Regions from separate parts of the Homo sapiens genome. Here region 2 is linked to region 1. Evidence: fine-mapped expression QTL. Tissue or cell type: whole blood. Region 1 holds a variant in brackets; the other region holds the start of a gene. All regions are shown on one strand. Distances are between the middles of the regions.

What was found. PIP is the estimated chance that this variant, and not a neighbour inherited with it, causes the effect.
Region 2: PIK3R1 starts here. The variant in region 1 is fine-mapped to the expression of PIK3R1 in whole blood (TOPMed, PIP 0.95).

Annotation. Positions count from the first base shown.
Region 1 is chr5:67,214,746-67,217,431 of GRCh38, forward strand. No RefSeq gene overlaps it. Among named protein-coding and RNA genes, the nearest start is that of CD180, 19 kb to the left of the region's middle. RefSeq lists an enhancer at 1,155-1,394. The variant C/G (reference allele first, on the strand shown) is at 1,214.
Region 2 is chr5:68,214,351-68,217,036 of GRCh38, forward strand. It overlaps PIK3R1 (phosphoinositide-3-kinase regulatory subunit 1), which reads left to right and starts at 1,406. Exons shown (of 16, transcript NM_181523.3): 1 at 1,406-1,599. RefSeq lists silencers at 583-802, 1,023-2,122.

The DNA of each region.
Region 1 (2,686 bases):
ATCACCAAGGTTTTTGGCTCATGTAACTGAAAGCTAGCCTAAATTCAGAGTTTTATCTGGAATTCTACCCCAAACATCTTAATTCCCTAAAGTCACTGGAATGGCTCAACAGCGCTGAACTTTCCAGACAGCTGCATGGAGTTGTCATCCATCCTTCTCTGGAGAGTGTCTGATCCCTTCTCTAAACTTATGCCCTGCTCCTCTCCCCTATCTGTGCACAGAGGACTTGGTCCGATTCTACCTCCGGAACAATGCTCAGCCCACAGCCCTCATTCCCTCCGTGATGAACAGTAACTGTGGACTTTTGACCTTCCTCTTGAGCTTGGTCTGAGTCTTGGCATTTACAACCACGGCTCTAGGTAAGGACATGCTTTGGGGTGTCTTTCTGGCCCTTGCCTTTGCGTTTGCGCATAGGGCTCTAGTGGCCCAATTATGTTGTTGCAGTAAAGTTTCTCCTTGCTCTGGTCTGGAGCAGTTGAGGTCATTCATCCCCTGGATCTCTGTTGGCACAGGTGGCTTGGCCGAGTGCCACTTTAGGTAACTGTGACCTGTTTACTCAACTTCTTCCTGGAGTTTTGATATTCTTGTTGTCAGGGCCTTTGAGAAAGTTTATACGATGGGCTCAGTGAAGAAGCCGCAGCTGTTCTGAAATTAGGCTCCTTTCCCCGTGAATGTGCAGCTATGCGGGTGTGTGGATCAGGTGCACAGGGCTTTGAGGAATGTGGCGGAGACTCAGTGGCAAGAACAGTTGTCTGTGATTGCTGGGCCTTGTTTTGACCCAGTCCCTCACCCCACATAAGCCTCTCAGCGAGGAACATGGAAGGGTCAGGCCTCTCACGTTTCCTCCCCTGTGAGATTGGATCGCCACTGTGATGGCATTTCTCCCCATCTTCAGTTGCTGGGCAGACCCTGCGTGTGTGCGCACATGTCCATGAGCCCACAACCCTTGCATATTTGCAACAAAAGTCTCTGGGGAGAATGAATTTAAATGGACTCTTGACTATTTGTTCTGGAGCGGCACGTGTTTACTTAAGTCACCAGCCTCCTTCCTAAATGCAGTCACGAGCTCTCCCAAACTCCACAGACACCCAAACAACCAAATATTCAGAGAGCCCGTGCCCTTGCCCTGCTTCAGCCCCACAGCCCCGCCTGGGTTGCTGGTCTGACCCGGCTGGGCAGGGTGGCTGTGAGCTGCCGGTGTGGCCCCAGGCAC[C/G]TCAAAGGGTCCTCGGTGTTCAACAACAGGAAGTGCTGGCAGGCTTCCCTCGCTAGGGAACTGAAAGTGGTGACAACAGAGGATGTGTTCTTCAGGCTATCAGATAAAGCCCTCTGCACTGAGAACTGCTTCTGACGAGGAACAGAGACTTCACTGGTCTCTTCCCCATGCCTTGCCCTTGCCCTAACTAACTTCTGAATTTATATCACCTGTGAGTTCTGCTCTAATTCAGGGACTTGGGCGGAGAGGTTTCGGACAGTGGCCAAAAGCAAGAGACTGTCTGCATGACCCTTTAGAAACACCCGTGACCTGGTGCAGAGCTGAGCCAGCTTTGGCCACACTGTTTGGGATGCTGACTCAACGCAGCTCATTATATCTGATTGAATTTATCTTTCATTACTATGCAATCAAATTAAAGGGCAAGAAGGGATTTTTCTCTGTTTTCTGAAAGTGGTTGCAGCAAAACCCACTATGAAGCATTTATTTCTTGTATTGTTTAGACTGGGCAGAATCAGAGGGAGGTAGGTGTGTGACTTCATTTAGGAGAAGGTGAGCACTGATGGCAATATTTTCTTCAAATGCCACACATGAAGTGGGAGAGGTGACAGCCAAGCCTGCAGGGACTCTGTCTCTGAAAATGTGAGTGGAACAAAGCACCTCTGGGCTCTGGATCATTTTCTTGTGTGCTCCTGGGGTCTAGTTGGTTTAAACTCTTGAAGGCTGCAGTGTGTTTTTTGATATACCCCCATGTGAAGGGACATTTATTTAGCATAAACTATGGGCTGGGCACTGTTCTAAGGGCTTTGCATGTATTCACTTAGATTTACAAATTACTGAATATTGTTAAGAACAAAACCTAAGGAGCACAGGAGTGTGCACGGTGTTCTTTTGTTCCTATAAAAACAGCAATCATTCCATTGCAAGTGAGGGAAAAGTGGAAGGGTACCCAAGAAAATGGTAGAGTGATTGTCTTTGAGGAGATGAACTCAGGGACTGTGGTGTGGGGAGGGAGACTTTTCATTGAATACACACACTGCTCTGTTTGAATTATGTTTGACCATGTGGGATGCATCCTTGTTTCAGTATAAAAACACTGCATTTATTTTTAAAGGGAACAAAATGAAAATTTTATAGGCCAAGGCAATGTTGTGGGTCAGATCCTGGGGGCTGAATCCTGGAGTAGGGCAAGTCCAAGGCAATACTGTGTGTAGAATGGTGGGATGGGAGGGGGAACTCTGAGAACTATTTTTCTTCAGACAAAAAGACACAAAAGAGCTTGCTATCCTGGTGACGAAGAAATAGTTCTAATCTCAAACTGGAAGCTAGAAATTTAGGAAGGAGAACTCAAAATAGTAGTAAAGTCCACTTGATATGAACCAGTGTCAAGGTAAAACGAGAAATGTGAGCCCACCCCTGTAACTCACCCGCTATGTATGTGTTGTTCTAATTCCAAGATTTCCTCACTATGCAAGT
Region 2 (2,686 bases), 1.0 Mb after region 1:
TAAACATGATGTGGGTAGCTGCCTGTTTTTGTGTCGCCTCTGCAAGAGACATCTTGGAATAATAGAAACACCAGTGTCTGAATAGCCTAAAGTGGAGCTTACTTTTCTGTTAGGTGAGTCACCTTTAAAAATGATATTTTTTAAGGATAAGCGATGAATTTTAGGACGTTCTTCCCTCTACTTCCAACGTCCACAAGAATAAACCACCAAATTCAACGTTTTACAGAGGCCAAGTGCTTAGGTTTTGTGTGTTTGTTTTTAAGAGTTTTCTTGCAAGGAAACTGGGAGGGAACTATAAAAGGGCTTTAGGCAAACAGGGTGGGCGGGTGCAGGGCTTTAAGCTGCAGAAAGGAGAATCTGGAAAGAGCTTTTAGGAAGCAGATTCTCACATGTTTTAATATGAAAGAGTGGCACACGTGGTGCTGGCATTCCATCTTACCATCAGTGGAAGGTTTGAACCAACATCAAATTTTTCTGGAGCAACTTAGGTAATTATTACTTGAAGAATATGCATTTCAAAACTAACACCTTTAAGAGACAATGTAATTCACCTGCGCTTCCCCGCCCCCCCCGCCCGCGCCAACCCCACCCCCCGCCAACCCCGCCCCCGACTCCGCGAACGCCGAGGGGCCCGTGGTCTGCCTGAGTGACCTCCATTTGCTCTGTCATCTCAGGACTAGAAGCCATCAGCCAGCGTACGCCCTCAGAAAACTCTCTTCCCTTCTCGCGGGTCCGCCTGGCTCCCGGAGGCGGCGGTGCCAGGCTGCCGGAGTTAGCCAGCGGCAGGCTGCGGGCGCCCGTCCCTCCGGTTCACCCTTTCACCCCTCCTTCACCCCCGGAGCGCCAGGCGGGTGCCGCGGGTTTTCCGCCCACTCGGAAGGCAGTGCTGGCGAGACCAGGAATTGCAGGGCCTCTCCGCTTTGGCGAGCTCTGGAATCCGAGTCCTCCCCACCCCAGCCACTCTGCTGGGGCGCTAGGGGCTCGAAAAAGCCTGGGGTTGGCTGAAAGACACTCGGATTAGAGACGCAGCCAGCCTCCAGGGAGGTCTGAACTTGTCTTCGACCTCCCCGAACCCCTCCGCCTCTGCGCTGGGAGACGCCCAGCAGCCGGGCGGGCCCGGGACGTGTAGAGCCAGAGCACTCCGCAGCGGAGGCAGCGCGCGGCACGGCCGCCCGGGGCATCCCCGCGGCTGGGGGGCGGAAGGCGAGGGCGGTGGCAGGAAGGGTCCGCCAGGCCTGAGCTCGCTCCCCCACTGCCAGCCGCCGGCTCGGAGGCCCGAGCCGTGCGGACGGAAAGGGGCGGAGCCGCGGGCTCTGGTTGGTGTGGGCTCGGGGGCGGGGCGCGCGGGGCCGGGCCGGAGGCGGGGCTAGCGCCGGGCGCTGGAGCTGCGGGCGCACGGAGAGGAGTCGCCAGCAGCTGGAGCGGAGTTGGAGGAAGCAGCGGCAGCGGCGAGGGCGGCAGGCTAGCTGTCGGAGACGGCAAGCACGGATCGGGCACGGCCGGCGGGTCGCAGCCGGGCTGGAGGCCGGTCGGAACCGAGCGGGCAGGAGGCCACCGCTGCAGCGCGGGCCCCGCAGAGGAAGGAAGCCGGCGGGCGGGGTAGGTAGGCAGCAGCAGCCCCGGGTGTGTGTGCTCGGGCGGGGGAGGCGGTGCATGTGTGCACGGCTGCCGCGACTCTCTTCCTGTCACTGGCAGCGGCTTCTCCTTCTGCAGAGCCCCGCCGGGGGGAAGCGGGCTGGCCACCGGCCCTCCCCGCCTCCGGCATCTCCTGGCCGCCGGGCAGCACTACCCCCGCGCGCGGCCGGCGTCCTGTGAGATCCCCGCCATCCTGACTCCCGTTTCCCCCGTCCTCCTGCGAGCTGGTCCTGCACGCCGCCGGTCGCATTTGCCCCCGGAGTTGCCGACGAGCTCGGGCTTCCTCCCACCCTCCGTCACCGCACACTTCGGAGGGTCCCCGCTGTCGCCTTGCTGCAGTTTTCCGGGGCCCCTCACCGGAGGAGAGCGCCCTGGCCGCTGCCTTCGTGTTGCGGGAAGGAGCGCTCCCTTCCCCCGTGGCCCTCCAGCTGCAGCCAGGGTCGCTGCCCGGGCCCTTCCCGGGGCGGGCGAGGCGGCGGTGGTCCCCGGAGCTCGTCCCCTAACCCCCGCCTTCCGAAGTTTGCCGCCCTCCTCTTCCGGGGTGGGGGAAGTGCGCCTCGGGGCGGTTGGTCGCTGGGGCCCTAACTCAGCGTTTATTGCCAGCCAAGCTTGGGCAGGTTGTTGGAGGCATATTTAGTGGGGTCTTGGAACCGCCCGGAAATCCAGCTTTTGGAACGTGGGGCGAGGCGGGAGGGACCTGCCCAGCAATATGGAGCCGGCTGGGGAGAGCCAGGGAGCCTGCAACCCGGAGCTAAAATATCGTGGGCAATTCTCTGGAAACCACAGCTCTAACCTAAGCTCAGAAACTGCCCCTCAGATCACAAGACAAAGAGAACAGAAAACCTCTGGCCAGGCACTCCTGTACAGAAATACACTTTGATAACCAGAATTGGAGCCTGAAATGCAAGGATATATGCAGAATGGCTGTTACGTGTTGAATGCAGAATGTGTGTCAACTGGGTTTGGGGGAATTCTTCTGTTTCCCGGGGCGCTATTAATATCGGAAAGGTCTCACTTCCACCGTTAATCCCTTGAGCTGCAGCGCTGTTGG